4 linked regions of the Homo sapiens genome follow. The protein of the gene in region 4 purifies or fractionates together with the protein of the main gene of each other region. This does not show direct contact. Each region holds a gene or a part of one and is shown on either strand. Other genes may lie near its edges.

Region 1 (2,657 bases), on a different chromosome or scaffold from region 4:
CTCCTGCCTCAGCCTCCCGAGTAGCTGGGACTACAGGCACCTGCCACCATGCCCGGCTAAATTTTTGTATTTTTAGTAGAGACGGGGTTTCACCGTGTTAGCCAGGATGGTCTTGATCTCCTGACCTCGTGATCTGCCCGCCTCGGCCTCCCAAAGTGCTGGGATTATAGGCATGAGCCACTGTGCCTGGCCACATCTTGCTTTTTTTTTTATGATCAGAACAAAGGGCCCACTCTAGTTCTCTACATGTCAATCAATCAAGCATGTTGAATAAGGGACATAGAGGATTTAACTTTTGTTATCATAAATGGAACTTGCAGGCATATATCAAGAACCCTATGAAGAATTCCTCTCCCATCATTTTGATAAAGAACTACATCATTTTTGATAGAATTGGTGAATGTTCCTAAACTGCTGAAGCTACATGTTTTTTGTTTTGTTTTACAAAGTCAGGTGTTTGAGAGTTCTTTTCCACTCTACTACTACTCATAGAGCTTGTTTTTTCTTTGGGTGTGTGCTGATCCTGTTACTGAGATTAATTACATGGCTCTGCAGTGTAGTTTACATAAAAATGATGTTTTCCACTTGATTGCTGCAGATATCAAGAGTTTGTTATTTTCAAATACCCATCCAACAAGAGAGATGGGGAGGTTTTTAGTTATATATGCTATATATATATATATAACTGGAAATGTTTTATATGTTTTCCGAAAATACAATAAGCCTCTCTTTTATTCAGTGTTCTTCCTCTTTTCTCCCTTATGAAAAAGAAAAGATAGCACAAAACTTAAGACTTACCTAGGAAACCCATTCATATTCCCACCATGATGTAATTATAACCCTACAATTACTTCAGGTAGCTACACAATATACCAGGTAAGAATCAATGCACAGTATAAAGAACTTATTGTTCTTTTCTATTCTTTCAGTTGAATAAGGGCCAGTTGGTATGCAGCCCATGTATATGTGAATGGAGTAAGATAAACCCCATGATCTCCTTGCACAGAATTGCAAATGTCTTTTGCCATACCAAGGGCCAGACTCAGAACCCTTGGAGTCATGTGGCAGAATTTCCCTCTTACATAAACCAATGCTTGAAAATGCTGCAAATGACCCTCTAATGATCCCTGAAGATCAAAACAGGGGTAAATGACTCCCTGCAAAACCCAACCCATGCTGCTGGCTGTGGGATTTTTGGTGTAAGCCTATCTATGCACTCTATCAGCCAGAATTTGGCATTTAGCTCTTAGTTAAATCTAGTAAAGGACAGTCTATTGTTTAAAGAGAAGGTGCATTTGTTCCTCAATCAAGCAAGAGCACCTGTGTTGTACTGCTTTATATCTCATGTATATTTATAGTAATGAAAAGACTTTTTAAATTGTACACGTTTCAGTGCCTTTCTTGTGTTATGAAAGGCAGGTAGATATTATAGCCATAGGTAAAAATCCATAGTTAAATTGCACACTGACCTTAAATCTCTCTGTGTATGCCCTTGTATCTTGCATGTTAAAAGTTGGATTATTGGGCATGTGTGGCAGCCTGCCCTGCTACATGCTAGACAAGTGTGCTTTAGTACATAGCCACAAGTTCTTCATTCTTTAAAATGTTTTGACAGATCATCTCATAATAAAAATAATTCAGGAAAACTATGGGGAAATAGTTACATTTCACAAAAGATATTTTAAACTCTTTGTAAAACTTAGATAATAGAGCCTAGCAGTTACTTTGTATCTAATTGATACATTTTATGTTAATTTACCACCATACATTTTATTAATCAAAATTGTATAGCATGTGACTCTTTTGGCTTTCAGAGTTCTCAAAAATATTATTTTGTTGCATGTACTGTATGTTTAGAGGCAACCAATTATATACTCAATATGGTTTTACTGTGCCTTACACAAAGAGAAACTCTATACAGAATGTATATCATGGGGTGGGGTAACAGAGTCTTTACTGCACTGTTAGGTGATGGCACACAGAGCATGTCCCAGAACATTTCTGTGCTTAATTACCCAACCAAAGAGATCTGAAGTATGTATGTCGTACTGTAATGGGGGTTTATGCCTGGACAATTAAGTGTTTTATTTGTTTTCTGAAATGATGTGAACTTATTTTTCTAAACACTATGCTAAATAAACTTTATATTTATACATACCTTGCATTGAAAATTATTTGGGAAATATTGTGTTTTTTTAAATATGAATGACTCATCTTACTAGAAAAGAAAAAAGAAATAATGTTGGTTTTATTTATCTCTGGAAAAGGGAAGAAGAGGAAGGGAAAAAACAAACATTCCAAAAGCTGGCAAATGGTTATAAGGCCAATTGGAGTGATTTTGGAAAAATAATCTTTGTCAGTCGTTGTGCAGAATTATGCAATTAACTGTACTACATAGAGGTAAATTATTAGATTGCATCCTCCTTAAAAGGAAGAAGTGTACCTTCCCCTTCCCAGCATTTTTTGTTTTTTGTTTTTTGTTTTTTTGTCCCTAGAGATGAGTGTGATGTTTGGCACACGGCAGTTACTCTGTAGGGTTTAATGGAATTAAATTGAAGGGTCCAAAGACCTCCTATTTTCAACCTTATTGAAAGAGTTCAATATCACCCATCCCTAGGGCACTGCCATTAGCCAAAGTCTGGTACCACCACGGTTGG
Region 2 (3,500 bases), on a different chromosome or scaffold from region 4:
TTCACAGTTTTCCGGGCTTTTCTTAAACTGCCAAGATTGTTGACAGGAAGTTGGAACATAGTTTCTATTGGAAAAAAAAATTTAAGTCAAAGTCAAAACACGTACAACTTGTAATATTTACTAATTCCACTGATGATAGGATCATAAAACCTACCCATCTGACAAAAAAGGTGCATAGATATCCTCATCTAGTGTGTACACACACAGACACACACCTGCTTTCATGTGCATATGGCTTGATATATCCATCCATCCATCCTTCCTTCCTTTTCTTAAGACAGAGTCTTACTCTGTCGCGCAGGCTGGAGTGCAGTGCACTCATGGTTCATTGACTGCAGTGCACTCACGATTCACCATAGCCTCAACCTTCTGGGCTCAAGTGATCCTCTCACCTCAGCTTCTCAAGAGGAAGGGACTCCAGGAGTGCGCCACTATGCCCAACTAATTTTTAAAATTTTTTTGTAGAGACTAGGTCTCACTATGTTGCCAAGGCTGCTCACAAACTCCTGGACTCAAGCCATCCTCCTGCCTTGGCACCCCAAAGTGCTGGGATTATAGGCGTGAGCCACTGAGCCGAGCACATATCTACTATATTTTGAATACTTAAAGCAGGCAGGCAAAATAAGTACTCTCTGATTTTCCCAGTTTTTAACAGGACATTTTGACTATGAGTCTAATCTGGCATAATTCTGATAAGACTTAACAACAGTTCAGTAATGAACTTCAAGATGAAAATTAGAGAAATACTAGCAATCAATTATTTTTAAATCAAGTGTTAGTGCTTTTCTCATTTTGATGTTGAACATCTGAAAACAGAAAAATGCTTACCAGTTCATCATCATTACAGTTTTGAGTGCCAGGGTAAAGAGGTTTTTGTTGAATTGGAACTGTCCTGCCTACTGCTACGGTATTCTTTAAAACAAAAACAAAAACAAAAACAAAAACAAAAAAACCTTAAGTTTCTGTATACTCCCCAAACTAAATACAGTAATGATATGTGACTCGACCAATGCATGCCCCCACTCCACCCCTGCCTGCAACGTACCTGGGCAAAGGTACTCAAAAATGTTAACTGTTACAGACTTTAAGGAGGGTACTTTTGAAAAAAATGAAAAGCCTGTATGTGTCTAAGGGAACTCAAAAATTATTTTAATGACCTAATACATTAAATTAGAAATTCATATCAACTTTCCCAAGTTCCTTAAAACAGAAGTTTGTCTTTAATGAGAAAATAAAATCAGTAAAACCTGGGCAGCTGAGAATATGTATGGTTTCTAATGAGATCAGAAATGCTTCCCATAATATGGTAAAAATTTATCAATTTAATAATCCAAATCTAACACAATTTCGCAGGATATAAAGTAGTTCTAAAACCCAAAACAGCAAAAACAAAAGACAAAGCACCAGGAATTAAAATTTAATATATGCAAATCCAGTTTTCTAATTAACAAAGGCTGTTACTCTGTAATACCAATATCATCTGTAAATGGCAAGTCAACTAATCCAAATGTAATAAAATGCTGCCTCATTTATTATTCTAATCCAAAATCAACGTTAACTATAAAAAAATGGAAAATAAAAGGAGAAAGAGTGAAATCTACCAAAATCAAAGAGTAACCCCTAGAAATTTTGAAACTGGGTACGTTACTCTAACTTAGAAGTCTCAAAATATTCTATATGAAGTACCAAAGTCTAATTGGGGCCGAAAATGAAAAGTATTTCAAAAAAACCTTCTAGGCCTTATCATACTCAAGATAGAATTGCTGCTCACTATGAAGCAATGACTATGGTGTCCCCTGCTCTCTCTGCTATGCTAATAATCTGCATATTGTGAAGCCAACTACAGACTTAGAAGTCACTTCTGATATAAATTAAGACCAAATCAATTATTTTTTGTCCAAATTTTATTGCTAAATTGTTTTAAACCATCTTTTGTGGTGGCTTAAAACCAGCAAATTCTTTATCACTTGCTTAATTTAAAACAGTTAGTACACACTGGGCATGGTGCCTCACGCCTGTAATCCCAACACTTTAGGAGGCCGAGGAGGGCAGATCACGAGGTCAAGAGATCGAGACCAACCTGGCCAACATGGTGAAAACCCGACTCTACTAAAAATACAAAAAATTAGCTGGACGTAGTGGCACGTGCCTGTAATCCCAGCTACTCGGGAGGCTGAGGCAGGAGAATCGCTTGAACCCGGGAGGCAGAGGTTGCAGTGAGCCAAGATCGCACCACTGCACTCCAGCATGGCGAGAGCGAGATTCCATCTCAAAAACAGACAAACAAAAAACACATACAGTTACTACAAACCAGGTCTTTTAGAGAGAAGCACATGTTAGAAAAATATTTCAGAAATACAGAAAAGTGTCACAGGCTAATTCTGAAGAAACCAGGTATTAAAATGGATGCCCACAGATACCTAAGACTGGGAAGAGACATCTTGTTTCTCTGTTCATTTCATAAACTCTCTATGGGCCAAAATTCAGTTCTTTGGGAACTTCCTGAGTTAACTCTGCTTCACACTTCATAACAGATGTGTCCAGAAGCCAGCCATTAATGGTTTCCCTGCCTCCTGGATGAGTGGCTCAACAATCTCAGAAAAACAAAGACATAAAGATTTGGAAATGCAGCCACCACTGGGGTCATTAGTCTATAGAAAACATAAAAAAGAATCAAGCGGCAGCTTGGGGGAAAGAAAAACCCATTCTTCTAAGTGCCTACCCACAGCTTAAAAAGTCGGTTTAAGACATTAAGATGAAGCATCTCACTGCCTGGTAGGTATTTTTTTCTGAAAAAGTGAGTATGCCCATAAGGGAACTTAGTTGTAAGAAACTTGTAATTTATAAAAAGCGGTATTTCAGCCACAGAGTTGGTGTTGGGTTTACTTATCTATTTTGAATTTAAAAGGCTTATAAATAAAGCAGTGACACTGCTTACTGGGAAATGCTGTACCAAAAAATGTTATCTTGCTGTAGGCTTGGCAACTAGGAGAAATCTGTATTTTTTTTTTGAGACAGGGTTCCAGTTTTTTTTTTTTGTTTTTTTTTTTGAGACAGTCTCGCTCTGTCACCCAGGCTGGAGTGCAGTGTCACGATCTTGGCTCACTGCAAGCTCCGCCTCCCAGGTTCACACCATACTCCTGCCTCAGCCTCCTGAGTAGCTGGGACTACAGGCGCCACCACCATGCCCAGCTAATTTTTTGTATTTTTAGTAGAGATGGGGTTTCACCGTTTAGCCAGGATGGTCTTGATCTGACCTCGTGATCCGCCCATCTTGTGATCCGCCCATCTCAGCCTCCCAAAGTGCTGGGATTACAGCCACCGCGCCCGGCATTTTTTTTTTTTGAGACGGAGTTTTGCTCTTGTTGCCCAGGCTGGAGTGCAATGGCACAAATCTTGGCTCACTGCAACCTCTGCCTCCCAGGCTCAAGCAATTCTCCTTCCTCAACCTCCTGAGTAGCTGGGACTACAGGCGCGTACCACCACATCGTGCTAATTTT
Region 3 (4,003 bases), on a different chromosome or scaffold from region 4:
GTAATCCCAGCTACTCGGGAGATTGAGGTGGGAGGATTGCTTGAAGCTGGGAGGTAGAAGTTGCAGTGAGCTGAGATCACACCACTGCACTCCAGCCTGGGCAACAGAGTGAGAGACTCCGTATCAAAAAAAATCTCCATTTGGAAGTCTAATAACTGACCTCTTGATGTCCAACCCTGCTTTGAACTTGCTCCTTTTGCAGCTTTCTCCATCTCAATTGATATAACTCCATCTTTCAGTTGCTCAAGCCAAAAACCCAGAGTCCTCTCTTTCTCCTACATACCACATCTAATCTGTCAGCAAAGCATGGCTGATTGTACCTTCAAAATATATCCAGAATCCAATCACTTTTTACTGTTTCTTCCACTGCTATCACCCTGACCTAAGACACCATCATCTGGCACCTAGATTATCATAAACCAGTGGTTCTCAACTGGGGGTGATTTTATCCCCAAGGTGACATTTGACAATGTCCAATGCAGTCCTGTACACTGTCAGATGCCTAGCAGCATCCCTGCCCTCTACCCACTAGATGCCAGTAGCAACCCCCCACCTAGTCACGACAATAAAAAATGTTGGCCAGGTGCAGTGGCTCATGCCTGTAATCCGAGCACTTTGGGAGGCCGAGGTGGGAGGATCATGAGGTCAGGAAATTGAGACCATCCGGGCTAACGCGGTGAAACCCTGTCTATACTAAAAATACAAAAAATTAGCCGGGCGTGGTGGCAGGCGCCTGTAGTCCCAGCTACTCGGGAGGCTGAGGCAGGAGAATCGCCTGAACCCGGGAGGCGGAGGTTGCAGTGAGCCGAGACCGCGCCACTGCACTCCAGGCTGGCGACAGAGCGTGACTACTTCTCAAAAAAAAAAAAAAAAATGTTGCAGGGCACGGTGGCTCATGCCTGTAATCCCAGCACTCTCGGAGGCCGAGGCAGGCGAATTGCTTGAGCCCAGGAGTTAGTTCCAGACCAGCCTGGGCAACATGGCAAAACCCTGTCTCTATTAAAAATACAAAAAATCAGCCAGGCATGGTGGCAGCTGCCTGTAGTCCCAGCTACTCAGGAGGCTGAGGTGGGAGGATCACTTGAGCCCAGGAAGTTAAGGCTCCAGTGAGCCATGATCATGCCACTGCACTCCAGCCTGGGAACAGAGAAAGAGAACCTGTCTCAAAAAAAAAAAAAAAAAAAAAAAGGCAATGGTGCTATGGTTACGAAAATCTGGTGGACCCAACAAATCTTATCTCTCTGCTTAAAATCATCCAATGATTCCCCATCTCACTCAGAGTAAAAGTCCTCACAACGACCCCCACAAGGACAAACTGTGATCAGCAACCCCACTACCCATTACCTGACTTCCTTTCCCACAACTTTTCCCCTTGCTCACTTCATTCCAGCCACACTTCCCTCCTTACAACTCTTTAGGGACTCTGCTCTAGCAGATTCCCTCTGCCTGAAATGTTCTTCCCTCACTATCTGCTTGTCTGTCTCCCTCACTTCCTTCAAGTCTTTATTCAACTCATCTTTTCCATGGGGGTTACTGAGACCACCCTATTTAATACTCTAACCCGCCAGTTGGCCTCCCCTATGTCCTCAACCTTGAATTTCTCCTTTTCTCCACAGCACTTACGGCCTTCTGGCAGTTATATAATTCATTTATTACATTTATTGTCTGTATCCCCATAGAATGGCAGCTCCACGATGGCAACGATTTGTCCCTTGTTCACTGCTGCATCCTAAGTACCTACAACCACGCCTAGCATGTAGTAGGTGCTCAATAAATACTTGATTAATAGATCTGAGAAGGCTTTTACTACTTCTTACTGTCACATAATACTACTCTGCTCTCTGGTTGTCACGAGAGAAAGAATCTCTCTTAAGGCTGAATCCTAACTTCAGGGAAACCTGAACGTGAAATACTAGTAAACAAAGGATTCAGGCAGACCTTTCCTGGCACCAGAGATAAGTACACTCCAGCTGTCACACACATTCATCTCTCTTCACTGGAGACAGGAAGCTGCATATGGTTGTGGGGTGCAGCAGGGCACCATTTAAGAGAAAGAACTAAATCAATCAGTTTCATTGGGCAGGAATCTGCACAATTTGGGAAAGGAGAGAGAGAATGAGAAGTCTTTTGGCCCAGATTACCCTACTCTCCTTCTCCCTTTCCTACACTCCGAAGCAGCAGTGATAAGGAGAGGCGATTAACACAAAAGGACCTCAGCAAGGATGTGGCCTCAGACACCATGTCCCCAAAAGGAAGAAGTCATATCAGAACTCTCCCTTCTTACACACTGCAATCACACCCTGAGTAGGAATAAAGAAGTGGAAATGTGTCAGACGAGCCTGAGAATTCGAAATGAGAAATCTCGGAGACATGAAAGTTAAGGGAGGGGCTCCAGAAACTTGAAGCTAGGGGAGGGCAGACAGACGTGCCTTCCGACCTCCCCGGGTGCTCTAAGCCGTCTCCACTCCTGCCTCCGCCCCTTTCCACTTGTGCGGGGGCGCACGGACCTTCGCTCTCCCGGTAGACATGACAAAGGCCGACCGGGAGCCGGGGGCGCGACAGCATCGGAGCGGTCAGCCTTCGTCCCCATCCCCAGGGCAGGACACCTGCGCCGCCCCTACTCACCTGCGGATCCATGTCCACCTCGGTCCCACACGCGCCGGGGGAATGCAGTGGAAGAGAACTGGGTGCCGGGGATCCTGGGACTCGCGTTCTCTCGCCCGCTCGCGAAGCAGGGTAGAGAACTCGCACGGCTCCGGCCGCTACCAGCCCCGCGCCACACCCGCCACTTTTGAATTCCAACGGCCACCACCCACTCTCACCGCGCTCTGCACGCAGGGACCAATCGTCGCTGTCGCCACAGCCGAGGGCCAATCGCAGCGTTCTCCGCCACCCGAAGCCACACCCCGCCCGACAGGCGCCTTGTCTTTTCTGTTTCGCAGGCGCAGGAGAGGTAGGCGGATTAATTCCACTTCCGGTGCCACTTATGCTTCTCACCCCTCCCCTCCTCTAGCGGCAATAGTGCTGGACTTCCGCTCGGCTCCCCGCCGTCGCTCGCTACGTCAGAAAATGCGTGGACGTCGCCGCACGAACGCAACTGGCCAAGCGAAACTGGTGGCGGCCGGAGGAGAAGGGGCGGGGACGCTGGAGGAAAGAAATGACGCGTGCGCAAACGAGGACCCGTGCCGGGAGACAGGCGGGACTAGCGCCTCCTGGTGACTGCAGTAGGGAGCGCACTTGTTTTCCGTCGACGTGATTGAGGCTCCAGCGCTGCCTCTCCTGGTCGTGGTTGACTGGGCCCGGAAGTGGCTCCTGGAGCCCTCACGTGGATGTGAGTGGCCTGGTCTGTTCATTCCCTGGTAATGTTGCCATTTCTCACCAAATTTAGGAATTTTTGCGCTCCATTGAAGCCTGACAGTGGGGATTCAAAGCTCAGGAAAGAACTTTTCTTTATAGCCCTCTTCTCTCAGCCAGCCTACTTACCTGGGTGCTGTTACTGGTACTGGGCTCAGGGCCTTTGGAGTCTCGAGCTCGGGGAAGATTTACTGCTTCCATTTATGGAGTATTTTATGTTTTGCAGATTGTGCACCTGTATTATCTCGTCTTTTAATCACGAAAATTCACTGAGTTCCTACATTGTGCCACATTCTTTGTAGAGATGGATGGAGACAGGTTCAGAAAGATTACACAATAAGGTCACACTGCTGGTTAGGAATGGATCTAGATTCCATTAGCTTCAAAATCCAAGCTATTTCTGTTAACTCACGTTGCCTCTAACAGTCTCGGTGACAAGAGCAACCCCTTACGTGTGAATAGGGTGCTAGTTTGCAAAGTCGTTCTACCATATTTACTCATCCGAGTTTCCATCCAATCCTGGAGGTAGTCAGGACAGGGTTTTATTTATGAAACCGAAAGGCAGGGGCCTCAAGCATATGTTCGGGGATTTGGTGTGCAGTTGGAAATTGGCAGGTCTGACACCCGCGCTGCCGTCTTCTATCCATTG
Region 4 (4,035 bases):
CTCACTCTGTTGCCCTAGCTGGAATGCAGTGGTGCAATCATGGCTCACTGAAGCCTCAACCTCCTGAGCTTAAGCAATCCTCCCGCCTCAGCCTCCCAACGTGCAGGGATTACATGCATGAGCCACCACGCCCAGACTAAATATGTGTTAAACTAAAGCAGAAGCATCATTACCCGAGTAGGCTCTATAGGAGGAAAGAGGAGACAAGTGAGGAAAGGAGAGAGAATGAAAAAAAGAGACTTAAATTGTAAGCATTGAAGGTTAGGATGGGAAGGCGATTCGCATTTAAATCTCAGGACCCCATTTAGGCTTCTACCTCCCTGACCGCTGGGAGGCTGGTTGCTTTTCACCCCTCTGGGTTCACTTCTATTTGTCTGTGAGCTGTCAGCATCCTTCCCCACTTGTCTTGCCCTGCCTCTGCCAGGGAGGCAGAGTTGGGAGTCGTGGCACAGGCATGCACGCTGTGCAGCCTCCCACACCTGCACCCTGAAAGACCAACAGACACCCTAAGAAACCTGATACACAAGCACAAACTGATAAGATACCCAAAAAGTCAAAGGCAGACAGCAAAACATGGCTAATATTACACAGTACTGCAAGAGAAAGTAACACCAAAACAAAACAAAACACAGACATCATCTCTCAGTTCCTTCTCAAATAAAAAAAAAAGGCCAGGTGCAGTGGCTCACACCTGTAATCCCAGCACTTTTGGAGGCCGAGGTGGGCGGATCACTTGAGGCCAGGAGTTTGAGACTAACCTGGCCAACCATGGCCAACATGGTGAAATCCCCCTATCTCTACTAAAAATATAAAAAATTAGCCGGGCGTGGTGGCTGGCACCTGTAATCCCAGCTACTGAGAGGCTGAGGCAGGAGAACTGCTTGAACCTGGGAGGTGGAGGTTGCAGTGAGCTAAGATTGTACCACTGCACTCCAGCCTGGGCAACAGAGTGTGACTCTGTCTCAAAAAAAAAAAAAAAAAAAGGGTGGGTGAGGTGGTGGCTCACACCTGTAGTCCTAGCACTTTGGGAGGCCAAGGTGGAAGGCTCTCTTGAGGCTAGGAATTCGAGACCTGCCTGGACAACAGACAGAAACACTGTCTCTACAAAAAATAAAAAAACTAGCTAGGTGTGGTGGTGTGTGCCTGTAGTCCCAGGTACTTGGGAACCTGAGCAGGAGGACTGCTTGAGACCAGGGAGCTGGGCCTGCAGTGAACCATGGTTATGCCCCTGCACTCCAGATAGGGTGAAATGGGTAGTTTTTCACTTGATCTCCTCCTCATTGTCTCTTACGTTTAAACAAGTCTCAAACCTGGTGCAGAGGTGCATGTACCTCCATTGCTGGACAAGGCCTGACTTTTGCCTGCTGGTAGGGCCTCCTCAGTTCTAACCAGCCTTCTGTGACCTCATTCTCTATCCTGGTTCCATTTTCCACTTTGTGACTTCATCAGTTAAAGATCCCATTTCAGCCACCAAGGTTGAGAGGCCCCAAGACCCAGTTCCTTTACAGAATCAACCCTGGGGTGGCTTTAGGACTGGGCTCTTTGGAGCTCATCCTTGGACCCACAGTGGAGTGCTGGTCCGTGCTGATGTCTTCAGATACCAATCAATGGGCATTTGGCTCCTTGCTTCCACTGACCTCTTGAGTACTTTCAACGATCGGTGTCAGGAGTGCCCCAGCTGCTGTTTCTAGAGCATCTCTGCAACCCACGGTGGCCTCTCCTCTCTCTGCGGGCCATGGACAGCACAGTCCCTTCAGCCCTGGAGCTGCCCCAGCGGCTGGCACTGAACCCAAGGGAGAGCCCGAGGAGTCCAGAAGAGGAGGAGCCCCACCTGCTGAGCAGCTTGGCTGCAGTCCAGACCCTGGCCAGTGTCATCCGGCCTTGCTATGGCCCCCACGGCCGGCAGAAGTTCCTGGTGACCATGAAAGGAGAAACAGTGTGCACGGGGTGTGCCACTGCCATCCTCAGGGCCCTGGAGCTGGAGCACCCAGCAGCATGGCTCCTCCGGGAAGCAGGACAAACCCAGGCAGAGAATAGTGGGGACGGCACAGCCTTCGTGGTTCTGCTGACGGAAGCCTTGCTGGAACAGGCAGAGCAGCTGCTGAAGGCTGGCCTGCCTCGCCCGCAGCTCCGGGAGGCCTACGCCACGGCCACTGCAGAGGTCCTGGCCACACTGCCCTCCCTGGCCATCCAATCTCTGGGGCCTTTGGAAGATCCATCCTGGGCCCTCCATTCTGTGATGAATACCCACACCCTGTCCCCCATGGACCACTTGACCAAGCTGGTGGCCCACGCCTGCTGGGCTATCAAGGAACTAGACGGCAGCTTCAAGCCTGAGCGTGTTGGGGTGTGCGCGCTGCCCGGGGGGACACTGGAGGATTCCTGCCTCCTCCCGGGGTTAGCAATATCTGGGAAGCTCTGTGGGCAAATGGCCACAGTGTTAAGTGGTGCCAGGGTGGCTCTCTTTGCTTGCCCCTTTGGTCCTGCCCATCCAAATGCACCAGCAACGGCCCGTCTTTCTAGTCCTGCTGATCTAGCTCAATTTAGTAAAGGAAGCGATCAATTACTAGAAAAGCAAGTAGGCCAGCTAGCAGCTGCAGGAATTAATGTGGCAGTGGTGTTGGGGGAGGTCGACGAGGAGACCCTCACACTGGCGGACAAGTATGGCATCGTGGTGATTCAAGCTAGGTCTTGGATGGAGATCATTTACCTGAGTGAGGTGTTGGACACACCTCTGCTGCCTCGTCTGCTCCCTCCCCAGAGGCCAGGCAAGTGCCAGAGGGTTTACAGGCAGGAGCTGGGAGATGGTTTGGCTGTGGTATTTGAATGGGAATGTACAGGCACACCTGCCCTCACTGTGGTTCTCAGGGGAGCCACCACCCAGGGGCTGCGGAGTGCAGAGCAGGCCGTCTACCACGGCATTGATGCCTATTTCCAGCTATGTCAAGATCCCAGACTGATTCCAGGAGCTGGGGCCACAGAAATGGCTTTGGCAAAAATGCTTTCTGATAAAGGAAGCAGATTGGAAGGGCCCAGTGGGCCTGCATTCCTAGCATTTGCCTGGGCCCTGAAGTATCTTCCTAAAACTTTGGCAGAGAATGCAGGCTTAGCTGTCTCAGACGTGATGGCAGAAATGAGTGGAGTGCACCAAGGTGGGAACCTCCTAATGGGTGTGGGAACTGAAGGGATAATAAATGTGGCCCAGGAAGGGGTGTGGGACACCCTAATAGTCAAAGCCCAAGGATTTCGAGCAGTGGCTGAGGTGGTGCTACAGCTCGTGACTGTAGATGAAATCGTAGTGGCCAAGAAAAGTCCCACACATCAGGAGATCTGGAATCCTGACTCTAAGAAGACAAAGAAACACCCACCTCCTGTGGAAACAAAAAAAATCCTTGGATTGAATAACTAGTGATACCCTCAATAAAACAGGGATTGCCAAGAAGGGAACAATCACCCCAAAAATGAATGTTTGCCTTTATTCCGTGTTTGGTACTTGATTCACTTTCTTTAAATAAAAACATGAAGGAACATAAAATTTCTTTTCATGCGCTTAGTTCCTTTCCAGTTCTCGACTTTTTTTGTTTTTTTTTTTTGAGAGACGGAGTCTTGCTCTGTTGCCCAGGCTGGTGTGCAGTGGCGTGATCTTGGCTCACTGCAACCTCCGCCTCCCAGGTTCAAGCGATTTTCCTGCCTCAGCCTCCTGAATAGCTGGGACTACAGGTGCGCGCCACCACGCCCAGCTATTTTTTGTATTTTTAGTAGAGACGGGGTTTCACCATATTGACCAGGCTGGTCTCGAACTCCTGACCTCATGATCCTCCCGCCTCAGCCTCCCAAAGTGCTGGGATTACAGGCGAGAGCCACTGTGCCCAGCCAGTTCTTGACCTTTTCATTTTGTGTTTCTATCAGATGCTCTTCCTTTCCTATGATAAGAGCAGGATTCAATTCTATTAAGATTTTTAAACTGAGTACCTATGTGGGCTTTGGGCGTGCAAAACACAGTGCAGCAATCTCTTCCCAACTATTTGAGCATTC

What was found. Proteins that work in one complex are often made in the same cells at the same time.
Region 1: the proteins of CCT8L2 (region 4) and SIX4 purify together in Homo sapiens (affinity purification with mass spectrometry; one large-scale study listed by BioGRID and IntAct). This does not show direct contact.
Region 2: the proteins of CCT8L2 (region 4) and ADNP purify together in Homo sapiens (affinity purification with mass spectrometry; one large-scale study listed by BioGRID and IntAct). This does not show direct contact.
Region 3: the proteins of CCT8L2 (region 4) and KIFC1 purify together in Homo sapiens (affinity purification with mass spectrometry; one large-scale study listed by BioGRID and IntAct). This does not show direct contact.

What each region holds. Positions count from the first base shown.
Region 1 is NC_000014.9:60,709,039-60,711,695, reverse strand, and holds the end of SIX4 (homeobox protein SIX4), read left to right. Parts: 3' UTR 1-2,157; downstream 2,158-2,657. UniProt on the Homo sapiens protein: Transcriptional regulator which can act as both a transcriptional repressor and activator by binding a DNA sequence on these target genes and is involved in processes like cell differentiation, cell migration and cell survival.
Region 2 is NC_000020.11:50,903,938-50,907,437, forward strand, and holds part of ADNP (activity-dependent neuroprotector homeobox protein), read right to left. Parts: intron 913-3,500; 5' UTR 829-912; intron 65-828; coding exon of another isoform or gene 60-64; coding exon 1-59.
Region 3 is NC_000006.12:33,390,620-33,394,622, reverse strand, and holds the start of KIFC1 (kinesin-like protein KIFC1), read right to left. Parts: upstream 2,801-4,003; 5' UTR 2,638-2,800; coding exon 2,626-2,637; intron 1-2,625. UniProt on the Homo sapiens protein: Minus end-directed microtubule-dependent motor required for bipolar spindle formation. May contribute to movement of early endocytic vesicles. Regulates cilium formation and structure.
Region 4 is NC_000022.11:16,590,251-16,594,285, reverse strand, and holds CCT8L2 (T-complex protein 1 subunit theta-like 2), read left to right. Parts: upstream 1-1,475; 5' UTR 1,476-1,735; coding exon 1,736-3,409; 3' UTR 3,410-3,535; downstream 3,536-4,035. UniProt on the Homo sapiens protein: Possible molecular chaperone; assists the folding of proteins upon ATP hydrolysis.